3 linked regions of the Homo sapiens genome follow. The protein of the gene in region 1 interacts with the protein of each later gene in a biochemical or structural test. Each region holds a gene or a part of one and is shown on either strand. Other genes may lie near its edges.

What was found.
Region 2: of the proteins of RNF25 (region 1) and CDH1, one has a biochemical effect on the other in vitro, tested with the Homo sapiens proteins (one study listed by BioGRID).
Region 3: of the proteins of RNF25 (region 1) and PRKACB, one has a biochemical effect on the other in vitro, tested with the Homo sapiens proteins (one study listed by BioGRID).

What each region holds. Positions count from the first base shown.
Region 1 is NC_000002.12:218,668,194-218,676,835, forward strand, and holds the start of RNF25 (E3 ubiquitin-protein ligase RNF25), read right to left. Parts: upstream 3,810-8,642; 5' UTR 3,778-3,809; coding exon 3,737-3,777; exon of another isoform or gene 3,666-3,736; intron 487-3,665; coding exon 412-486; intron 149-411; coding exon 46-148; intron 1-45. Other genes in the region: STK36 (serine/threonine-protein kinase 36), read left to right, coding at 4,637-4,720, 5,432-5,572, 5,686-5,763, 7,150-7,280, 7,836-8,085. UniProt on the Homo sapiens protein: E3 ubiquitin-protein ligase that plays a key role in the RNF14-RNF25 translation quality control pathway, a pathway that takes place when a ribosome has stalled during translation, and which promotes ubiquitination and degradation of translation factors on stalled ribosomes.
Region 2 is NC_000016.10:68,810,292-68,818,616, forward strand, and holds part of CDH1 (cadherin-1 isoform 1 preproprotein), read left to right. Parts: coding exon 1-50; intron 51-1,392; coding exon 1,393-1,568; intron 1,569-1,843; coding exon 1,844-1,972; intron 1,973-3,021; coding exon 3,022-3,204; exon of another isoform or gene 3,205-3,271; intron 3,272-5,223; coding exon 5,224-5,468; intron 5,469-8,325.
Region 3 is NC_000001.11:84,181,806-84,190,130, reverse strand, and holds part of PRKACB (cAMP-dependent protein kinase catalytic subunit beta), read right to left. Parts: intron 7,932-8,325; coding exon 7,803-7,931; intron 6,095-7,802; coding exon 5,996-6,094; intron 5,032-5,995; coding exon 4,949-5,031; intron 1-4,948. UniProt on the Homo sapiens protein: Mediates cAMP-dependent signaling triggered by receptor binding to GPCRs.

The sequences.
Region 1 (8,642 bases):
GACTCTCCCCTTCCTCCCTTTGCTGCCACACAGTAGGGGCTTCACCTCTGCTGGGACCTGAAGCACCAGAGTGAAGCAGACATACTGTGAATCCTGGTCCTCTGCAGTGGCAGGATGCAAAGTGATGTAGATCTCCCATGGTGAAGTTCTGCAGGTGGATCAAGTGGACACGCAGATGTGACTGGGTAGGGGCTTGGGGGCTGGGGAGGATGGGGCTGAGACAGTGAAGTGGGCAAAGGAAGTACACATTGGACTCTTTCTTTTGGGGTAGGATTAAAGGAATAGCTTTTGTCTACACAAGAGAAATATTATCTCTGAATCAAGGCTCACAATGTCTTAAGACCCAAATTCAGCATAGAACCTCTCCTCATTACTAGGGGGACTCCTGCCCACCACTGGTTGAATACATACCTGCCATTTCCTTTAATCACCTGTAGTTCATCTAGATAGATGGACTCCAATACTTCAACTTCAGAGGGAAGGACCCTAGAGAGACAGGAGTAGACTAACTTACCATTACAGCTCTCCCTGTGGAAGCCTGCTAAGGCCAATAAAGGCAGGCTTTGTAGAAAAATGGCAATCTACCAGAATGCATTCTCCTGCTAAACTCCTTAAAAACAAGGAATATGTTACCTTAAGTTGTCAACTGGCCAAATAGAAGGCATGGAAATCAGAATTTTAGGCATCATTTCTGCCAACAGATGAAGAAGTGGATTCTAGAGAAGTAAAATGACTAACCAAGGCTTAACATAGGTAGAACTAGGCCCAGAGCCAGGTTTCCTGACTCCCTGTTTAAGTTTCATTCCCCTTAGTGGCTGAATCTCTGGTCTAGAGATATGGCACTCATTCATTAGCATTAACGTTACCAATATTACTCCAACCTTTCCCTACGTCACTGTCCAGTGTGGATCCCAGTGCCTTGGCTACTGTCTACATACAGTTTTAACACCAGTCACCCTAAGCCTTCTTAAAGGAGATAGCAACCTCAACACAACATATTTAGGGTGGTATAAAGGCTGTGTTGTAATGGAAGAGCCAGCAGCCTCGGAGTTAGTTAACAGGTACCAATCACTTACAAGCTATGCAATCTGGGACGTGACCTCTCTGTAAGCTTAAGTTATCCTGTCTGTCACATATAGATAATAACACCTACTCTCTAGGGTTATTGTGAGGATAAAAGGTGATTTGTTTACATAAAGTACCTAATAGTATCTGGGCTATCGTAGCTAGTCTACGTCCTCTTTTTTTCCTGTCTGTATATAACCTTCTCCCTTAGAAGGAAAGAGGGAAGGAAGGAGGTAATAGAGTACTCTGGATGTATTTATGACCTGGCTGTCTGGTTGATCTAGATCAGCCTGTTGAGGTTAGGATCCATGGTTCTGATGTAAATCAAGGGACACACATACTTAAGCATAGAAACAGCAGTTGTAATGAAATTGAAGCTGAGTGATCAGTTTGTGTCTACAGCTCTACCAAGTGATACATGGAAAAATGCACACTTTGCTTTCTCACACTGCTCCCTCTTCATTCTAAGAGTAAGGCTGCCCCAGCACGACCTATGTCAGTGTTGTTAAGTCTTAGGCAGAAACTTCAAAATATAAAATATAAAGCTTCACACCTCACAGATAACAGTGTAGTTCTGGCTGACATGGGAGTGGGAGTCTCACAGTACTACAGGCTGCTGCACTCATTGTTGCTGTCTCCATGGCTCAAGGTGTCTCCCCTGAATCTTAAAAGTTCCCCTGAACAGGTAAACTGTAAGTTATCCCAGCGCTTTGGGAGGCTGAGGTGGGAGGATCACTTGAGGCCAGGAGTTCGAGACCAGCCTGGGCAACAAAGCGAGACACTATCTCTACAAAAAATAAAAAATTAACTGGACACGGTGGTCCCAGCTACTTGGGAGACTGAGGCAGAAGAATCACGGGAGCCCAGGAGGTCGAGGCTGTAGTGAGCCATGATCTTGCCACTGTACTCCAGCCTGGGTGACAAAGTAAGACTCTGTCTCTTAAAAAAAAAAAAAAAAAAGAAGTTTCCCTGAACACTTTGAAAACCAGTAGTCTAGATACTCTTAATAACGGCCAGTACTAGCTGGGCTCCCTGAACCAATGTAACATTGAGGTGTAGCCTCAGTCAAGTGGCCCTTCAATACTTCGCCCACCCTAGTTATATGGGTCCTGGATGGGATGGTGGTAAGGTGGTGACAACAAAATGGGGGAGGGGGGCCGGGCGCGGTGGCTCAGGCCTGTAATCCCAGCACTTTGGGAGGCTGAGGCGGGTGGATCATGAAGTCAGGAGATAGAGACCATCCTGGCTAACAGGGTGAAACCCCGTCTCTACTAAAAATCACAAAAAATTAGCTGGGTGTGGTGGCGGGCGCCTGTAGTCCCAGCTACTCGGGAGGCTGAGGCAGGAGAATGGCATGAACCCGGGAGGCGGAGCTTGCAGTGAACCGAGATTGCGCCACTGCACTCCAGCCTGGGCGACAGAGCAAGACTCCGTCTCAAAAAAAAAAAAAAAAAAAAAAAAAATTGGGGGAGTGGGGACTGAAGAATGTCCTAGTACAAAGAATCTAAGGTGTGGAGTCAGACAGATATGGATTTCTATTCATAATTTTCTATCTTTTGGCAAATCACTTTACTTCTTTGGGACTCATCTAGTCTTCCCAGGTGCCTGCACCTCAGTTATTAATGAAAAGGAGGCCGGGTGTGGTGGCTCACGCCTGTAATTCCAGCACCTTGGGAGGCTGAGGTGGGAGGATCACTTGAACCCAGGGGTTCAAGACCAGTCTGGCCAACATGGCAAAACTCCGTCTCTACAAAAAATACAAAAATTAGCCAGGCATGGTGGCACACACCTGTAGTCTCAGCTACTCGGAAGGCTGAGGCAGAAGGATCACCTGAGCCTGGGGAGGTCGAGGCTGCAGTGAGCCGTAATCGCACCACCGCACTCCAGCGTGGGCGAGAGTGAGACTCTGTCTCAAAAAACAAAACAAAACAAAACAAAAAACAGACTTAAGTATATTACAAATCCGTCGTGATCCTCTCAACTATTCTGAGGTAAATGCCACACCCACTTTTTTTTTTTACAGCTGAGGACACTGACTCACAGAAGCTAGATGGCCTGTTCAGCATCACACAGCTAATAAAATGTGGAGTTAACCCACATTGATCCTACTTCCAAATCCCAGAGTCCTTCCATGTTCTAGTCTTTGGTTAAGAATGCTTGAGAGAAGGACTAGAGGGACTTTATATGAAGTGTAAAGCTTTATTCATACAATAGTCCTCACTAGTGCTGTGTGAGAGAGAGAAGGCTGAGGAAAGCGTCGGCGGAAAAAGGCTGATCCAAGGGGAAAGGGGGCCGGAACTGGAGGGCACTGGTTCTGAGAGGAGAAAGGGAGATGGGGAGGTCTGATGGGCAGGCATCCCCCAAAGCCCCTGAGAAAATTCATTTGAGGAGGAGAGAAAGGGATGGCGTGAAGCTGGAGGAAAAGGGATCGAACCGGATGCGGCGAGGCCTGAACTGGCCTGGCGGGCGCCGACCCGTTCTCCTCTCACTCAGATCAGCGCCCCTCCACCCTCCCGTTCCCCAGTCCAGCTTTCCCAGAGATGTCAGCATCTCTGCCATCCCTCATCCCTCGCTCCACCCCACACGCCCGCCGTACGGACCGTCTGCGACAGCTGCTAGGCCTCTGGACTAGATCCAGGCTGTCAGCCAAAGCCCATGCCCCCAAAGTTACCAGTCCTCCTCCCCTGCAGCTGCAGACGCAGACGCCGCCATATCTTCACCGGCCCGCAGCCGGAACCGGAAATGCCCTTAGGGAAGTCGGAGGCGGAAAACTAAGAGGGGTGGGCAGCTAGCGTCGTTTCTAGGCAACCGCAGACTCCGGGTCCTTAGCCGGGCCTGATGGCCCTGAGGCAGTTCGGATGTGTCCCAGGAAGTGCCCATGTGTGGTCCGCCGTCCATTCCACACCTCTGAGCGCCTTTGTCCTCTGAACTTCTCACCAGTTCTAGCGAGTAAAATTGTAAGAAAGGGAGCCGAAAGAGACCGGAGGGAGAGGCGGGTGGAGAAGAATTATAAGTCAGGCAACGTATGCAGGCAGCCAGAAGAGATGGGGCTAAACGCCAGGGAATCCGTCCCTTGGCCTGAGGAGCTTGGAGCTCCTAGGCTGGGGGTGAGAGAGGGGCTCTGGCCTGCGAAGCGCACGGGCCAGGGGGTCTGAGAGCGGGTGCTGAGGAGTCTGGGAGTGGCAGGAACTTGGGGGAGACTCAAAGGAGCAGGGTTGGTTGGGCGAGGCTAGGTTGAAAGAGTAGGGTCGAGTGAGCCAGGCTGGGTGAGGGAGAAGGGGAACCAGGTGTTAGTTGGGCATGGGGCCGGGTTGGGGACAGGAGGATGAAAGTGGGGAGGAACTACAAAGAGAAGCTCTGTTTGTTCCAAGAGCGCATCATCTTTGCATGCATTCCACCCTCCCATGTTTTTTGAGGCTTTATTGTGAAAAAGAGGAAAAGGCAAGGTGGCTAACATTTTTCCTTTCCCGTGCCCCAACTAGGCGTCCCAGATGTTGTGGAACTGTCCCTGGATCTATAGCTCTTCACCGTCTCTACTTTCTTCCTTCTAAGAGATCCTGAAACCTCTGTCATGGAAAAGTACCACGTGTTGGAGATGATTGGAGAAGGCTCTTTTGGGAGGGTGTACAAGGGTCGAAGAAAATACAGTGCTCAGGTGTTGCACAAAGAGGGATACCTTTTGGGTGGGATTTGGTACCCCCAACTCCAGTGGAAAATGGATCTAGAAGGAATGTATTTATACCAGTTTGTATTCCTAAGGTACTGACTCCCTCATACTTCTTATGGAGTATAAGCTTTGAAGTTGGATTATTTGGGTGCAAATTCCATCTCCACCGCTTTCTAGCCCTAGAATTATGGACAAATTACTTAACTTCCCTATGTCTCAATTTCCTTATCTCTAGAATGGGGATAAGAACAGCAACTGATTGATGGAGTTTGAGGATTAAATATGTTTTCACATTAAATCACTTAGTACAGTGCCTGGCTGTTAGTAAACAACAAATATTATTAGTCTCTAGCACACCATGTAATAAGAGGTAAACCACTTGAACTCTATTATTTCCTCTTCATTTTTTTTTTCCTTTCCTTTCTCCTAAATCTCATCTTGAGTGCTGGTCAAATCAGAACACTTCTTCCAGAAGGGGAAATGTTTTGCAGATGCTGTTTCCTCCTGGGATGAGGAATGGGGAAAGCCTGGATAAGGCCAGGGTACCATGGAGAAAATGGAAGCGGGAGACTAACAGAAATAATAAGAGTTACTCAAACACTCTAAAATCTGACTTCTGGAGCTCTGAGATTAAGGCTGAAATTCTAGATCTTTTCAGTAGTGTGATTAGGCGTTAACTTTTCACCTTACCACTGACAGGTCGTGGCCCTGAAGTTCATCCCAAAATTGGGGCGCTCAGAGAAGGAGCTGAGGAATTTGCAACGAGAGATTGAAATAATGCGGGGTCTGCGGCATCCCAACATTGTGCATATGCTTGACAGCTTTGAAACTGATAAAGAGGTGTGCTTTGACAGTTTTGGGCCCTGTCTCCCCAAGCACAAGGGTTCCAGGAATTTCCCAACCTCAGAATGCATGAATCTGGAGCCATCAGTGCCACTGCCTTCTCTCTGTAGGTGGTGGTGGTGACAGACTATGCTGAGGGAGAGCTCTTTCAGATCCTAGAAGATGACGGAAAACTTCCTGAAGACCAGGTATGCTTTCTGCCTTCAACTTCTCCCCACCTCCGACCTCTCTCCAGGTTAGAGAACTGGTAGAGCAAGCTAAGGACACTGAGAGTCTCCATTTCAAAGACTTCTGAGAAGAATATAAGAGTCTAGGTATATAGAGGCAGTGTAGTGTGGGAGTAAATTATGTAAACGTTGGAGTCAAAATATCTGAGCAGGAAGCTTGGCTCTGCTCCTTCCTAGCTGGGTCTCATTGGACAAGTTACTTTAATTTCTTTGTGCTTAGTTTCCTAATTTGTAAAATGGAGATAATAATCATGTTTGCCTGATAAGTCTATGATGAAGAGTGTTAAGTCATGTAATGTGTTTGAATAGTTAGCTATTATTAACATTATTGTTATTAGATACCTTTAGGGAAGAAGGGCCAGTGTAATGGTACCAGAAAGAGGGCAGTAAGAATAAAGGTTGTGGGGAGTCAGGATTTGGCACCAGGACGTAGTGGTTAGCAGTGGGATTTTGTTGCACATATCCTCCAGCCACATTTATTCTAGGCGTTTGTCTGTACCCAAGCAAGTAGGCCCCCCCTGGGATTCATTATTGCAGCATTCTCTTTCCTTCTGAGCACTCACCACTATTTGTAAGTAATCATATTTTTGAAATTATTTTATTTTTAATTGAATTTTATTTTTTGAGACAGAGTCTCGCTTTGTTGCCCAGGCTGGAGTGCAGTGGCACAATCTTGGCTCACAGCAAACTCCGCCTTCCAGGTTCAAGCAATTCTCGTGCCTCAGCCTCCCCAGTAACCAGGATTATAGCATGCGCCACCATGCCTAGCTAATTTTGTACTTTTAGTAGAGATGGGGTTTCACCATGCTGGCCAGGCTGGTCTCGAACTGCTGGCCTCAGGTGATCTGCCCGCCTCAGCCTCCCAAAGTGCTGGTATTACAGGTGTGAGCCACCACGCCCGACCACCATATTTGTTTTATCTGTCTTGTTTGTTTGTCTGACTACTTTTCTTGAAAAAAGGCATTTTGTCTTATTTAATAACAGGTAATGTGTATTGAATATTTACTATGTGCCAGGCACCATTCTGAGTATTATTTTGCATGCTTTAACTCAGTCCTCACAATAATCCTCCATGTAGATGGTGTTATTATATAGATTGTCACCTTAGTTTGCCCATGGTCAAGCAGATAGTAAATGAGATTCAATAAATTTTTCTTGAATGAATGAATGAGCAAATGAAAGAGTGATTAAACAAGGGGAACAATAACTAAGAAAGAATAGTGTGAAGCTCTGCAAGAAAGGGAAGGAAGAAAAGATTAGCAGTAATATTAAGAGAAATTTTTGGGCTTGTCAGCCAGCTGCTGTTTCTAACCTTTTTTTTCTTTCTTCCACCTCTTTAATTTCTAGGTTCAGGCCATTGCTGCCCAGTTGGTGTCAGCCCTGTACTATCTGCATTCCCACCGCATCCTACACCGAGATATGAAGCCTCAGAACATCCTCCTCGCCAAGGGTGGTGGCATCAAGCTCTGTGACTTTGGGTAAAGATTCTGAGCATCCATCTAAGCTTCCAGTTCCACACGGAATCTTTTTTTTTTTTTTTTTTTTTGAGATGGAGTTTCACTCTTGTTACCCAGGCTGAAGTGCAATGGTGCGATCTCCACTCACCACAACCTCTGCCTCCCGGATTCAAGCAATTCTACTGCCTCAGCCTCCAGAGTAGCTGGGATTACAGGCATGTGCCACCATGCCTGGCTAATTTTATATTTTTAGTAGAGATGGGGTTTCTCCATGTTGGTCAGGCTGGTCTCGAACTCCTGACCTCAGGTGATCTGCCCACCTCGGCCTCCCAAAGTGCTGGGATTACAGGCATGAGCCACTGAGCCTGGCCCCACAGGGAATCTTAGACCATACTCTTGACTTATTTGGGCCTCATTTTAGAACCGGAGCTAGAGGCTGGGACTGCTGCTGGGTCTTCTGGAACCTAATCAAAGGTGCTCCCTCTGCTCCGGTTTGGGATATCTCTATGTTAGGTAGTAGTGACCAGGTTTAGAATATCTTTTCCCTTTCCATTTCCATCCCATTATCTTCTGCAGATTTGCCCGGGCTATGAGCACCAATACAATGGTGCTGACATCCATCAAAGGCACACCACTCTATATGTCTCCAGAGCTGGTGGAGGAGCGACCATACGACCACACAGCGGACCTCTGGTCTGTTGGCTGCATACTATATGAACTGGCAGTAGGCACCCCTCCCTTCTATGCTACAAGCATCTTTCAGCTGGTCAGCCTCATTCTCAAGGACCCTGTGCGCTGGCCCTCAACCATCAGTCCCTGCTTTAAGGTAATGAATATTGAAAGGGAGATGACTTTTACATTAGAAATCTGTCTCCCTCTATCTCTGTTCCTTTTTCCAAATCCTTTTCCAGAGCTGAGGCGGGACTTTGCAGTTACTGAATTAATGGCTGTGTTATTCTGTTCTCGCATTGCTATACAGAACCACCTGAGACTGGGTATTTTATAAAGAAAAGAGGTTTAATTGGCTCACAGCTCCATAGCCTGTACAGGAAGGATGGCTGGGGAAGCCTCAGGAAACTTACAATCATGACGGAAAGCAAAGGGGAAACAGGCATGTCTTACGTGGTGGACCAGGAGGAAGATAGAGAAAGGAAAGGTGCTACACGCTTTTTTTTTTTTTTTGAGACACAGTTTTTTTTTCTTTTTTTTTTTTTGAGACAGAGTCTCGCTCTGTCACCCAGGCTGGAGTGTAGTGGCGTGATCTTGGCTCACTGCAAGCTCTGCCTTGCAGGTTCACACCATTCTCCTGCCTCAGCCTCCTGAGTAGCTGGGATTACAGGTGCCCACCACGACACCCGGCTAATTTTTTTGTATTTTTTAGTA
Region 2 (8,325 bases), on another chromosome or scaffold:
ATTCACCCAGGAGGTCTTTAAGGGGTCTGTCATGGAAGGTGCTCTTCCAGGTATATCCACTAATGAGAATCTGAATACTCAGAAAGACTCTTAGGTTCTTTGGACCCCAAAGTGTTGTCCAAGCCCAAAGGTTGTGTAACTAAAGCTGATCCTTCCTACGGACAGAACTTCTTGGCAAGCCATTGTTGTGTTATATGCATGTGTGTAACAGTCTACCTGTGGAAACATATAAAATAGGGAGAGTTTAAGAACAATCTTCCCTTTTTTATTATTAATTTTTTTTTTTTTTAGGCTGGGCATGGTGGCTCATGCCTGTAATCCCAGCACTTTGGGAGGCCAAGGTGGATGGGTCACCTGTGCTCAGGAGTTCAAGACCAGCCTGACCAACATGGTGAAACCTCGTCTCTATTAAAAATACAAAAAAATTAGCCGGTCGTGGTGGCGGGGGCCTGTAATCCCAGCTACTTGGGAGGCTGAGGCAGGAGAATTGCTTGAACCCGGGAGGCGGGGGTTGCAGTAAGCTGAGATCACGCCACTGCACTCCAGCCTGGGTGACAGATCCAGACTCCGTCTCAAAAAAAAAAAAATTTTTTTTTCAGAGACAGGGTCTTGCTTTGTTGTCCAGGCTACTTTCAAACTCCCGGGCCCAAGCAATCCTCCCACCTCAGCCCCACAAGCTGCTAAGATTATAGGCATGAGCTACTATACCTGGCTAAGAACAACCTTCCTAATTAAGGAACAGATCTTTACCAGTACCTTAAAGCCCTAAACAATCCCCCTTGGTCACATTCTTTTCTCTCCTCCATAAAGATAACCACACCCTAGGCTGGGTGTGGTGGTTCACACCTGTAACCCCAGCACTTTGGGAGGCCAAGGTGGGCAAATCACTTGAGGTCAGGAGTTTGAGACCAGCCTGACCAACATGGAGAAACCCTGTCTCTACTAAAAATAGAAAATTAGCTGGGCGTGGCGACGCATGCCTATAATTCCAGATACTTGGGAGGCTGAAGCAGGAGAATTGCTTGAACCCGGGAGACAGAGATTGTGGTGAGCCGAATCACGCCATTGCATTCCAGCCTGGGCAACAGGAGCAAAACTCCGTCTCAAAAAAAAAAAAAAAAAAAAAGATAACCACACCCTGACTTTTGTGGTAATCATTCCCTTTCTTTTCTTTATTACCATTTGTGTATTTATACCTGGATAATAAGTTGATAGTTTGAGCTTTCTTTCTCCCCTAGCACTTTGGTAAGAATTCTAGGAATTAGGGAACTCTGACACGGTACCACCCCCATGTCCCCTCCTTTATCCCTCAGGGCAGAATTGGATTAAGCAGTATTGACCCAGTCCCAAAGTGCAGCTTGTCTAAACCTTCATCTCCTTGAACTCTTCCAGGAACCTCTGTGATGGAGGTCACAGCCACAGACGCGGACGATGATGTGAACACCTACAATGCCGCCATCGCTTACACCATCCTCAGCCAAGATCCTGAGCTCCCTGACAAAAATATGTTCACCATTAACAGGAACACAGGAGTCATCAGTGTGGTCACCACTGGGCTGGACCGAGAGGTCAGGGGTCAGGAGGATCCAGAGGGTGTGGAGGACAAATGTGTATTAGCTCAATCCCGTGGACAAAGCAAAATCCTGCTAGGCCAGTTGTCAGTTAATACAGTGATGGTCTAAGCTTTGCATCTAAGCTTGTGCCCAGAGGTTCCGTGCCTAGAAGACAGGCAGGCTGGCATGAAGCACATGGTTAAATATTCTGGTTCCATGTGTTGGGCTGGGCTAGGCCAAAGGTGGCTAGTGTTCCTGGTCCTGACTTGGTTGTGTCGATCTCTCTGCAGAGTTTCCCTACGTATACCCTGGTGGTTCAAGCTGCTGACCTTCAAGGTGAGGGGTTAAGCACAACAGCAACAGCTGTGATCACAGTCACTGACACCAACGATAATCCTCCGATCTTCAATCCCACCACGGTAATTCTATAACTCCTTAGAGGGTTTCCAAAGAAAGGTCTTTTGTTGTTCATGAACTAAGTGTCACCACTGCTCATGGGCGAAGTCTTTGAAAACTCTCTCCAGACTAGAGAATGTTAACTTTAAACTTAAAAGCAAGCATCTTGAGATGGCAGTTGTCTTTTAGTATCTTTTTTCCACCCTTGGCCTGGGGCCAATTGGTGCAAGATTGTGAAGTTGCAAAAAGCACCTACTGATTTCATAGTCTCATGGTACATTTTTATAGCAAATATTACCTGGTTTCATTTCTTTATTGAACAAATATTTTCTAAGTTTATATTAGGCACTGTGTTAGACACTGGAGAGACCATCACACACAAAGATTCCATTCTCATGGTGTTTCTGGTATAGCCAGGAAGACATCTTATGAGAATTATTGTATGCCAAGGATATTACATGCATTCAAGGAGAAGGTATTGAGAACCAAGTAGGGTAAGTTTAAATCATCCTGTATAATGGCCAGGCGTGGTGGCTCACACCTGTAATCTAGCAAGTTGAGAGGCCAAGGCTGGTGGATCCCTTGAGGATGGAGTTTGAGACCAGCCTGGCCAACGTGGCGAAACTCCATCTCCACTAAAAATACAAAAATTAGCTGGGCGTGGTGGTGCATGCTTGTAATCCCAGCTACTCGGGCATCTGAGGCATGAGAGTTGCTTGAACCCAGGAGGCGGAGGCTGCAGTGAGCCGAGATTGTACCATTGCACCCCAGTGCGCCCATTGCCTGGCCTCTCCTTGTCACATCTTCTCCTTGAAGCTTGCTTTCAGTTAGCCAGGTGTGGTGGTGCATGCCTGTGGTCCCAGCTACTCTGGAGGCTGAGGTGGGAGGATTGCTTGAGCCCAGGAGGTTGAGGCTACAGTGAGCCATGATCGCTCAAATACACTCCAGCCTGGTGACAGTGAGATCTTATCTCAAAAGAACAACAAAAAAAGAGGAATCCTTTAGCCCCCTGAGACTCAGCTCTGCTAGCAGTCTTGGTACTTTGTAAATGACACATCTCTTTGCTCTGCAGTACAAGGGTCAGGTGCCTGAGAACGAGGCTAACGTCGTAATCACCACACTGAAAGTGACTGATGCTGATGCCCCCAATACCCCAGCGTGGGAGGCTGTATACACCATATTGAATGATGATGGTGGACAATTTGTCGTCACCACAAATCCAGTGAACAACGATGGCATTTTGAAAACAGCAAAGGTTTGTATGGTACCTGGCAAGATGCAGAAACTGGCATCCTCACAGCTGTTCATACCCTTGTCCCCTGGTATCTTCTTAGAAGTAGATTCGCTTTGGCAGGGGGACAGGGTGACTTTCCCAGATTGTAGTGGACCATGTGGGATTTGCAGTGGCTCTTCCTGCTCATGTAAGAAATCAAGAAACTGTGCTGTGTGTGGTGGCTCACGCCTGTAATCCCAGCACTTAGGGACGCTGAGGCAGGCAGATCACGAGGTCAGGAGTTTGAGTCTCTGCTAAAAATACAAAAATTAGCCAGGCATGGTGGCACGTGCCTGTAATCTCAGCTACTAGGGAGGCTGAGGCAGGAGAATTGCTTGAACCTGGGAGGTGGAGGTTGCAGTGAGCCAAGATCGTGCCATTGCACTCCAGCTCTGGGTGACAGAGCAAGACTCAGTCTCCAGGGGTGGGCGGGGAAAAGGAGGCCGGGCGTGGTGGCTCACGCCTGTAATCATAGCACTTTGGGAGGCCAAGGCGGGCAGATCACAAGGTCAAGAGATCGAGATCATCCTGACCAACATGGTGAAACCCCATCTCTACTAAAAATACAAAAATTAGCTGGGCATGGTGGTGTGCACCTATAGTCCCAGCTACTAGGGAGGCTGAGGCAGGAGAATCGCTTGAACCTAGGAGAGGGAGGTTGCAGTGAGCCAGGATCGTGCCACTGCACTCCAGCCCGGCAACAGAGTGAGACTTCGTCTCAAAAAAAGGAAATCAAGAAGCTAAGGCTTCTTGGTGGCTCATGGTGGCTCATGCCTGCAATCCCAGCACTTTGGGAGGCCGAGGCGGGCAGATCACCTGAGGTCGGGAGTTTGGGACCAGCCTGGCCAACATGGTGAAAACCTGTCTCTACCAAAAATACAAAAATTAACTGGGCGTGGTGGTGCACACTTGTAATCCCTGCTGCTTGGGAGGCTGAAGCAGGAGAATCGCTTGAGCCTGGAAGACAGAGGTTGTAGTGAGCCAAGATCGTGCTACTGCACCCTGGCCTGGGCAACAGAGTGAGACTCTGTCTGAAAAAAAAAAGAAATCAAGAAGCTGTTACACAGGATCCTGAAATTGAAAAAGAAGTACTATCTGCTTTAATAGGCTCTTTCCCAGAAACATTCTCCTTCCCTCAGCTCTTTCCATTTTGCGGTGACAGAGAAAATGATTTACTGGTCTCTGCTCTTGTGCTGGTTTATTTTAGAAGTGGGGCAGATATGGTTGTTTTTGAAAAATGTCCTAGAAACTTGAAAACTAGCCAAGCGCAGTAGTGTATGGCGGTGGGCCCAACTACTTGGGAGGCTGAGGTGGGAGAATCACTTGAGCCCAGGGGGTTGAAGCTGCACTCAGCTATGATCATGCCACTGTACTCCAACCTGGGCAATAGAATGAGACTCCATCTCTTAAAAAAAAAAAAAAAAAAAGATGGCCGGGTGCAGTTGCTGATGTCTGTAATCCCAACACTTTGGGAGGCCAAGGCGGGTGGATCACCTGAGGTCAGGAGTTCGAGACCAGCCTGGCCAACATGGTGAAACGTCGTCTCTACTAAAAATACAAAAAATTAGCCAGGTGTGGTGGCGGGCTCCTGTAATCCCAGCTACTAGGGAGGCTGAGGCAGGAGAATTGCTTGAACCCAGGAGGTGGAGGTTGCAGTGAGCCATTGCATTCCAGCCTGGGTGACAAGAGCAAAAATTCTGTCTCAGAAAAAAATAAAATAAGGAAAGAAACTTGAAAACTAAGAATTTGAGTGAATTGCTTGTTGAAGTGACTGGATCCCTAGAATAGCCCCAGCTTTGCCTTCCTCTTGAGTAGGTGAGCAGATTTGAGAAGCCATGGTAAGTAATTGTGGTTTCTGCCATTGAAAGTCATGGCAGAAACCACAGTTACTTTTGCACCAACCTAATATATTACCAAAAGCAACAGTTAAGGATTTAATTTTATTTTTACTAACACAAAATGTTTCGTTTTGTTTTTAACTTCATTGTTTCTGCTCTCTAGGGCTTGGATTTTGAGGCCAAGCAGCAGTACATTCTACACGTAGCAGTGACGAATGTGGTACCTTTTGAGGTCTCTCTCACCACCTCCACAGCCACCGTCACCGTGGATGTGCTGGATGTGAATGAAGCCCCCATCTTTGTGCCTCCTGAAAAGAGAGTGGAAGTGTCCGAGGACTTTGGCGTGGGCCAGGAAATCACATCCTACACTGCCCAGGAGCCAGACACATTTATGGAACAGAAAATAACGTAAGTGTGAGGATTTTTCAACTGACTTGCAGCAACTGGTTATTTTATATCATTTTATATGTAAATCAATAATATGTACTTCATGGCATTTTGTCATTTGTCTGTACAAGACCATTCTCTTAATTTATTTTTTATTCCCTTTATCTGTGCTCCTTTCACCTGTTCCCTTCCCTTCACAGACAGCCGTTCTTGGTCTGATGTGCTGCCTCTCTTTGAGCTCTTGTAGTATGGTAGAAATGCAATTTTACTTTGCATACATACTATTGTGTTTTTTTGAGTTTGGAGTCTCACTTTGTCGCCCAGGCTAGCGTGCAGTGGCGTGATCTCTGCCTACTGCAGCCTCTGTCTCTTGGGTTCAAGCAATTTTCATGCCTCAGCCTTCCATGTAGCCAGGATTACAGGTGCCTGCCACCACGCCCGGCTAATTTTTGTATTTTTAGTAGAGACAAGGCTTCACCACATTGGCCAGGCTGGTCTCGAACTTCTGACCTCAAGTGATCTGCCTGCCTCCTAAAGTGCTGGGATTACAGGCGTGAGCCACCGCACCCAGCCCATAGTATTGTGTTCTAAGTAGCTTACTATCAGTATTTCTCCTTTCAAACTTGAAGGTACCTCTATAATGTAAATCACACAGATGCTGAGAACTGAGAACCCACATGCCAACCAACCAACTACAACACTTGCTTTAAAATACTCTCATTTTGGGTTGGGCATAGCAGCTCATGCCTGTAATCCCAAAACTTAGGGAGGCCTAGGCAGGTGGATCACTTTGAGGCCAGGTGTTGAAGACCAGTCTGGCCAACATGGTGAAACCCCTGCCTCCACTAAAAACACAAGAAATTAGCTGGGCATGGTGGTACACACCTGTAATCCCAGCTACTCGGGAGGCTGAGGCACGAGAATCACTTGAACCCAAAAAGCTGAGGTTGCAGTGAGCTGAGATCGAGTCACTGCACTCCAGCCTGGGTGACAGAGTGAGACTCCATCTCAAAAACAAAAAACAAAAAAACTCTCATTTTCTATGTGTAGCCAATGGACTCCTCATAATCTAGAGATATTTCTACATGCTCCAAACTGTAAGGCCTGGCAAGATGGGTTTTAATCGAAGTTTAAAAGAATGATGAAAAGTCAAAGACAATAATGTAGGATTAGGTTCAGTGATGAAACCCTGGATTGTACAGTTTCCAGGCTGGGTTGAAAGCTTGCAGTAGTGAAATAGATAGTTCAAAGCATCTCCTGGGGCAGATTCAGGGACCAGGTCTTTAGTGTCTGTTTCCAGAGGCCCTTACGCCTGGAACAATGACCACTTGATGTAATTCATTGCTTTGCACTTCCAAAGAAGTGAGGCCAAGCCCACAGTTTCTTAGAGCCCTTTCCTCCTTTGATTTCTTAGTTTCTCTTTCAGAGCCTTTCCATGACCCTAGTAAATAACTGAGCAGTAGATCTCTGTTAGCCTCCCTGTACCTCCCATTAAATGGCAATAGTGCAGTCCACCCACAGGTCAACAGGGCAACCTGCATCTCCAGATGTTCATGACAGGAGAGGAGGTGGCATGTTGCCACCATTTAGGAACTACTGTATTGTTTGGGGGAGCTGGTCTGCAGGAGTCTGCTTTTAAAAATAAATAAGGATTATAGTAATCATTGCTTCAGCAAGAATCATCCACAGATGCCAAATCCATTGGGTGAAAATTAGTTGCTGAACAAGATATTCTCAAATTATCTACCTGCAGATTATAGGTTAATCATGCAGTGAAAAAAGGCACCTTTGCTGTGAAGAAATCTGGTGGCCTTTCCCTTATCCAAGTGATCAAAGTTATCAATAGAAGCACAGACAGACATCATGTGCCTCCCAGTGTCCTGCACTAGGGAGGCCACAGCATCACCTCTGTCCTGTTCTTGCCCCCACCGACCCCTGAAATGGATTACCTGAATCTAAATTTTGAGGAATAATCAGACAAACCCAAGTTAAGGGGCATGCTACAAAACAACGGCCAGCACATTTCAAAAATGTCAGTGACAGAAAAGAAAGACCTAAGGAAGAGCCATGCCAACGAAAGGCCATATTGGATCCTGAATCCAGAAGGGTGCAAGGTTGCTATAAAGGACATTTTTGGAAAATCTGACAATTCGAATATGCACCATATATTCGACAATAGAATTCTATCAAAGTTTTGTTTCCTAAAATTGAAAATCAAGACTGGTCACGGTGGCTCACACCTGCAATCCCAGTGCTTTGGGAGGCCGAGATGGGTGGATCATCTGAGGTCAGGAGATCGAGACTATCCTGGCTAACATGGTGAAACCTCGTCTCTACTAAAAATACAAAAAATTAGCCGGGCGTGGTGGCGGGTGCCTGTAGACCCAGCTATTCAGGAGGCTGGGGCAGGAGAATGGCATGAACCTGGGAGGTGGAGCTTGCAGTGAGCTGAGATCACGCCACTGTACTCCAGCCTGGGCGACAGAACGAGACTCTGTCCCAAAAAAAAAAAAAAAGAAAAGAAAAAAAAAGAAAATCAAATTGGGGTTATATAACAGAATGCCTTTGTTCTTAGGAGATAACACATTGACATATTTATAAGTAAAGGAACATGACTTCTGCAATTTATTTGCAGATGGTTCAGCAGAACAAGAAATTATGTAGGCGTGTGTCAATATAGACAGAGCAGATGTGGCAAAGTATTAACAATGAGTAAACTCAGGTGAAGAGTTCATGGATGGTCATCATACTATTATAGTAACTTGTCTGTTGTATTGTTGGTTTTCTTGGTTTTCTTTTTTTTTTTTTTTTTTTAAAGACGGAGTTTCGGCCGGGCGCGGTGGCTCACGCCTGTAATCCCAGCACTTTGGGAGGCCGA
Region 3 (8,325 bases), on another chromosome or scaffold:
AAGAAAAAAATATGTTGTATGAAAAGTATATTAGGTGGTAAATATTTTTCCTAAAGTAAAATGATTGGCTGTTCCAAAAACGGAGGAAGAAGAAAAGAAAAATTATAAGATTAAGACTGGGGGTTTGGAAAAATGAAAGGATGGACCTTATGAAAAAAGTTTTATGTGTAAATAGTTAGGGAAAGAAATTGGAAAGGAAAATTGTTTACATATTTTTCTAAAAATTAATGATTGGTGTCAAGGGTGCACTGACAAAGGACCAGAATCTTGCTCTCTATATTTAAACAAAACTTTCTTGAAGTATTGATCTGCTCTCAATAATACTGCAAAAGGTTGTGATTTTTAATTATAAAATCTGTTTCTTTGACAGCCATCTTCCAAAGTGCAATTTCTATTTCTGCCACATTTCTTCCTGAGATCTAATTAATTTCCCTAGTTTTAGGTTTGAAATGCTGTCCTCTTCATTAAAAATAGTAATTCCATTTCTTGAGGTAAAGTTTTCCTTTTGAAATTTATATTTCAGAAGTTCGGCTTTTGCTGTGTCACACTACACATGATTTGAAGGTCATACATCCCCTTCTCTTTCTTGAAAGGTATATCTTTTTGCTTGGCTGGGTTGATAACTCCCTCCTTCAACCTTTTTCCTCAACTCCTAGAACTTTTTTTTTTTTTTCAGTTTGAACTTTGTTATGGCCTGATGCAGAAACGTTTATCTTAAAGGCCTAGAAAAACGAAGTTTTCTTTCAGTATAATTTGAATCTGTATTCTTGGCTCTTCTTGGTATGTCTGTATTATTTCATGTAACCAGGAAATTTCTCATGCTGTTACTGAGAGCCATGTATTTCCCTGCTCAAGATAGTCCTCTTCTTGTTCATATTTTTCTATAACACAGTGTACACTCAATAACCCTGGACACATTCTTCCTGTGTCTGATTAAATTCAAGTACTCAATCAACTTTCAGATGATTGGTAATTTTTTTAATGGAAAGCTCTAAATGGGAAAAAGAAATAATGAGCATACTGCAGAAGATTTTTCTTTACCATTTTGGTGATTTGTCTAAAAAACTAGATTTTATATTTTATCAAGATAATATCCTATGTTGTCTTTATCAGGTTTTTCATTACTCAGAAAAACTGAGCTTTAAAAATAATAAAAGTTTTCACATTCATATAACTTTCTGTATTACATCTGATGTCTTTTGATTATCACTCTGGTTAAATAAATGACTATTATTTTACAGTGACCTGTTACTCCGTTTTGACCAAGGGTTTTAAGTCTTTTAAGATGTTTAACAAACTTCCCAAAAATCAAATCCTAAATTAAATGTTCTTAATCTAGAATTAGCTTTGGGATTTTCCAGCTGGGCCCTTGGAAAACATTTGAAGACACAGATCTCATCTTGTAGACGTATTAAATAATTAGATTTATTTTTAAATTATATAAGAGATTGTATAAATGATGTGATACTAGATCTTTTAGTTGCATTTATGGCTATGTTGTTCATATGAATGTTTCAAAAATTATATAAATTCAGAGAAATTAACGTTATTCATAATTCTGGTTATTGTCTTAAAATGCTAGATAAAATAGAAATAACTAATTTTACTTGTTAATTGTAAACTTTCATCAGATTTTTACCCATGGCTATTCTAGATTTTTGTCATCCAGAGTTAATATTTTGAATTCTCAAAATTATTTACAATCAGATTCATAGAAAAGACCCCAACAAGTACCCTTAAATACAGGTTTTTAATAACTTTAAGATCAATAGACTAAATAAAAATTTCCAGAACCCTAATAAAAAAAGATGAGTATATGAAAATACTAATTAAGATCAAGCAGAACAAAAATTACATGAAATTAAATAATTGATAAAAATAATGTTTTCATAACTTTCATTTAAAACATTGTTACATTGTTAGTTCTTAAATATTTTGGTTTCCAGATTTAAAAAAACTTATCTCTTTAGCTATTTATAATTTATAGCAATTTGGTAAAGTATATTTTTGTAAAAAAAGATAAAAGCATTTGCTTTTTTTCTCCTTAATTCAAAAATTAGTTGTAAGTACTTTTATGGGAATATGACTATTTGCACAGGTCCAGTAAAAATCTGCTCTCTCTTTATAGCAGAATATGAAAACACTGATTATATTACTAAGGCTCTAACTGAACTATCGTATTTAAAAAGTGCATAAAATGCCTGACTTCAAGGGTTTCTCAGCATTACAATGAGTAAATAAAAACTGTTACTTCCTGGCAGGACCAGGAACCTCAAGACTGTAAGGAAAATCTAAGACTGCCTTGGTTCGGCTTCCTTGCCTCAAGAGGTTTTTAAATCCAAGATTCCTATGTAATCAATGTAGAGAAAAAAGTTTTTTCTAAAGAATAACTATAATATACCTGTTATTAGACTGTAAGTCTGTACATTATTTTTGAGTCTTGTTATCTACCTATAGACTAGACAAGGTCCTAAATTCTTCTAGGTTCCTCCAATCGAACTTTCTTCCATAAAATTACTAAAATGAGAACCGCTCTGTTCCTGAAGTCCTGTTAGCTGAAACTATATAAATTTTAAGAAACAAGTCTCATGCCTGATGTATGGGCCACACAGAAAGTTCATCAAACTGCCCAAAGCCATAGCCAGAGACATTTACACTGTAAACAAAGCCAAGAAAGTTGATGTTTTCCATGGTGTGAACAGCTTTTCTCAAAACACTAGAACAAGACTCCATATTGTAATGAAACTCTTACCCCTCTTAATGCCTGCTTTTTCACTTAACCAAATAATATTGTAATTTAAAATTCACAATCAGTAACTGCTATAGGTACTGGTGAGACCTGCTAAAGCCATTGACAAAGCCTGACTTAAGAAATTCTTTCAGTTCATCTAGTCACAACATCGACAATATCCTTAACACAATTTTTTGTTTAATTTGTGCTGGTGGTCCCTCTTGCAAAGTTTGGCATTCTCTGCTTTAGTTCAACCCAGTCATAAAATGTTAGTCAATGGCTATAGCAGGTCTCACCAGTTTCCCCTGGTCCTTTGATTTCTTTAGTTTTTTGCCCTTAGGCCTGGGCTTTAGTTCAAAAGCACTGCACAAATACATTTTACTATATTGTTAATTTTTTTGTACTATCATTTGTAAGCTTTGTTCTTAGTGCCTATCTAATCTTTGTAAAGGCAGCTGTCCCAACAGAATAACGTTAGCCCAACACTTAAAGATGACTGCTAATACCTATGGAAGTGATAAGTGGGAACTCGATGCTGGCTGGACTCCAGACAAAAATCTACTTTGAGAAAAATTTTCCTTCTGGCCTCCTCGTTACTTGAATGTGGCCCAGGTCCCTACATAGACACCCCCCAACAGATAACTTCTCTCATATGTGGGACAGAGACAACCAGAACAAGTCCATCCGAGCACCAAGGAATAATTAAGCCTAACTTCAAGATGGTTGACAAGCAATGCTTTCAGAGAAAGATCTTGATCAAAAGGGAAAAATGTGAAAGCTGATTATACAAATTAGTCATTCTCATCATACCTAACTAAATCAGAGTCGAGGGGCCAGGGAATAACGCACTCAGGGCACACAGCACCTGCTCCAAGAATTAAGGCCAGGTGTGGTAGCTCACACCTGTAATCCCAGCACTTTGGGAGGCCAAGGAGGGTGGATCACTTGAGATCAGGAGTTCGAGACCAGCCTGGCCAACACGGTGAAAACCTGTGTCTACCAAAAATAGAAAAATTAGCCGGATGTGGTGGCGGACACCTCTAGTCCCAGCTACTCGGGTGGCTGAGGCAAGAGAATCACTGGAACCCAGGAGGCAGAGGTTGCAGTAAGTCGAAATGGTGCCGCTGTACTCCAGCCTGGGCAACAGAGGGAGACTCAGTCTCAAAAAAAAAACCAAAAACAAACAAAAAAATTATATTTTCCACAAGTCTAGTTGCTGAAACTGCCTATTGTAACCTGAAACCAGTTTTCTCTAACAGCTACTGAGACAACCTACTGCGACTCTTAGACGAGTCTGACCCACCACCATCACTCACCAATCAGAGCTTGCCAGCTCCCCAAAACTTAACTAGTGCTAGTAAACTTTGTTTCAAAACAAATAAACATAAAATTTCTTTTTATAAAACCTCCAACCTTTTCTTTGTTTTCTAGACACATTGAAGACCACCTAGTCTGTGTATATGCCTCAAACTGCAATTCTTGCTTCCTCAATAAAATGTTGAATTTAGAGATTTGTCTCTACATTTTTATTTTGACTTCAACACACTATACTGAATGAAGCTGTACCTGTTTTTTATTTTAGCTTTATTCTATTAGTGATTATTAATGAACGGTAGAAGCTTATAAACTATTAAGTACAGGTAAAACCATCAGATTCTATAACCTATTTTAATAACTCTGAGATCTTATTAGTCATAACCTGATGAGGTACAAACTCCCGTTAAATTATGTGTATATTTTAAAAACTAAACTTAGCAAGAACTTTAAGGAGAATTAAATTTGTGAAAAACAAACTTTTATAATCTTATTACCATAATACTATTATTATTATTTCTCTATATATTTATTTTCCATCTTCATCCTTAAAACAATCCTCTGTCCTGGAGTTGTATTATTAATCTTTGTTTAATAAATATTGATATTTTAAAATTCAATTAATTTTTCCATTTTCTGAAAACTCTTCAAGTAGTGGACCCTCACAATATCTAGCAGTAGTATAACATTTAAATTGGCTTCAAAGTCCTTTTTTTATATTAAATTTTTATATTCTTTATATTAAAACTTGTGTATGATGTGGCCTCTTTGTTTCCACCTAATGCTTCATATGGCCAAAATATTAATCAAACAAAATAAGTTTTTGGCATTGGCATCAACTTAAAAATCTGGTTAAACAACACAAGCATATAAAGATTTGAAGAAAGCAAAACCATTAGTTACCTGAACCTTCCAATTCTTCTTAGATGTGAAAACATTTCACCCCCAGGGACATATTCCATAACCATGTATAAATTAGAATTATCCTATGAACAAATAAAAAGGAAATACAATTATTCAACTTAGGTCAAAATTATTTTAATATTATATAATGCTGAATTAGAAAAATTTAAAATCTCTCTGACAGATTAATAACCTTGAGAAATAAAGAATAAATGGAACATGCTCTAGCTTTTCTATACAGAGACACTCATATTTTTCCCCTCCTAGTTATTTTTGCCACAAACTAGTCTGGGACTTTTGCTCTTCCTTTTCTTGCAGAGAACATCTAGTTCTCAAACAATTAAATACTCAGGCAATGAAGTAACGTTATAATATATGCAAAAGAATAACAAAGGTAAAAAACAATTTAAAAAGTTAATAAGAATATTTACATTTTATGTATAAAAGATTAATGGTTTTAATATTTTAAATACATAGGTCTTCATTTAATTTAAAGAATAAAGGAGAAAAAAGATTAAAATGTTTCATATGATTCAATATTGCAGAGAGATGCCAGTATCATTCCAAAGAGCTCAAAAGTGACCAATTTAAATAATAAATGTGGTACAATTTTTCAGACATTTGAATAGTGGAACAAAAATTTTGCTTTGTATAAGTGAAAAGACTAGAACTCAAATTACTAAGTAAAAGAAGATGAGATAGTGGCAAAAAGGGCTTAATCAAAGTAGAAAATGTGTTGGGTGTATGAATTTGCATAAGAATTGTTATTAAGATATCCCTATGGTTTTTGATAAATTGAAATATTTCTTTTTGTAATACCATCTCATGAGTATCACCTTTGAACAATTTCCCCAGGGAGAATCAAAACCTTTTCAAACGTTACCTAAGTTATAAGCACAATAGGATTTAATTACACAAACTCTAGAGGTATTCGTTTTGTTTATTCATATTCTTCAGGCTTATCATCTGGTTTAGAATCCATTTATAGTTTCATCTTAAAAAAAATTTAGGTTGAAAATATCTTATTTAGATATTACTAAAATTTACCTTAAAAGCATACTCCAGTCGAACAAGGAAAGGAAAATTCACTGCCTGTAATATTCTTTTCTCATTCAAAGTATGCTCTATTTGCTTCAGTTTAACAACCTGTAATTGAGAGATAAATATCTCTTAATGTATTTAAGCAAAATTAAAAAGTTATCATTTAAAAAAATGTTTTCCATATAGTAATAAACTTGGATAAGCAAAATTGTTAGAATTGGATAAGGAAGATAATAACAATTACCAACTTTTAGGTTGGTGCATAAGTAATTGCGGTTTTTGCCATTACTTTTAATAATAGGATTCAAATGAAAACCTAATAGAGGATTTAAAACTTGGTCTTAGGAAGGTCAATTATGGTTTCAATTAAGAAGTGAGAGCTAAGTAGGAATAAGAAACAAACTCATAAGAAATTACTTTAAAAATTAGTTATGTCAATTATGCTTAAATAAATATATAATTACTTAAGGTAATTTAAAAATGAATGTGAAAATACTAAGGTCCTAATGACTTAAAGTCCTCTATAAAAGCTGGCTCAAATCTCTGCAATAAGTAGATAGTGATTTTAAATACTTCAGAAGATGAATAAGAAAATTAAAAATGAAGAGAAAGTCCATAACTGAAAAATAGTGAGTAAAAATGAACAATTTTCATTTTATAATATCTAAATAAATATAGGTATAAATTCTAAAAATTTATTTTATATTGCCATAGAAGAGGACACACAAAATATTGGGGAAAAAACTATCTTTATAACAAAAACTATCTTTGTATCCTAGGTCATTTAGACTTAAGCTTCCTCTAGATTTTCTATTTAATAGAAGGGGAAAGTAATTTATCTTGACTTCACGAAGACTGTGATTCTATTCCATATGTGATTCTATTTTGAATTTAAGAAGTGGTGACTTTAGCAAGACATATAAATAATTTTCTTGTATATGTGTAAATCATTAGAAGGTGGCATTCTTTCTTGCTGGAGTCTAATGGTCAATGTGAGGATAGTCACAGAAGTCAAGAAGTTAAATATAAATAACAAAAGTAATTAAAGATACCAGCCAGGTATTAATATATAAAATTAGGAGTATACTGATAATATTGAGCAAATAAATTGAGTAGGAGTCAGATTTGTGTTTTAATCTAGGCCTTTTATTTAACTAACTTTCTGACTTGAGATGATTTCAAATCTTTGGGCCTCAGGTTTTCAAAATTTGTAACATGAAGTGGTTGGATCACTACTGTACACATTTTAACTTCTGTAATAGTTACAAAACAAATTAGTCCATAATTGTCACAATAAATTATAGTTGTCCATCAGTATCCCTGGGGGTTGGTTCCAGGACCTACAGCAGAAACCAAAATGCCCAGGTGCTCAAGTCCCTTATATAAAATGACAGAGGCTTTGCATAAAGCCTATACACACTGTCCATATACTTTAAATCATCTCTAGATTACTTATAATACCTGATATATTGTAAATGCTATGTAAATAGTTGTTACACTGTATTGTTTAGGGAATAATAACAAGAAACAAAAGTCTGTACATGTTAGGTATAGATGTAATTTTTTTCCCAAATATCTTCAATCTGTGATTGGTTAAATCCATGGACGTGGAACCCATAGATATGGAAGGGCTGACTGTATACTAACTATGTATAATATAGTTACAATAAAAATTTAGTTACAATAAAAATTAAATTTAATAATAAAATTATTTGAAGCTGTCAATGGTAAGTCATTATACTGAATCTGTTTAATAGTCTAGCTGATAAAACTAAAGTTTACCCTGAAGGTAAATAACAACAAATACACTCACCTTCTGCTTATCTAAGATCTTCATGGCATAATACTGTTCAGTGGCTTTGTGTTTTACCAACATGACTCTTCCAAATGAACCTGTTCCAAGGGTTTTTTTCCTTTCAAAATCTTCAAGTCCGGCATTATTCTATATGTAAATACATAAATAAAATTTAAAATTCTCGTAAAAACACTATGGGAATTATAAATGCTTTAATAATACATAATCATAATGGATAATCCCATTTATAACTATCCATTTAAATGCAATACAAAAAAGCTATTGAGATTCCAGTTTATTGGTTCTATTTTTCCCTTTGAATAAGAAAGTATTTAATATCTGAGGAGAGAATGTATTGGAAAACAGAGCATAATAGTAATAGGAGGAAATAAGAGCCTCAGCTGAAATATTAAAGATTATATTCCAGTATGCATTCCTAGTATTGGACTTTAATCTTACTACTGAACTTCCAATAAATTAGTTTCATATTTTAATAATTACAAACTGACCAGAGGCATACTGACAAAGAGTCATAGAAGCC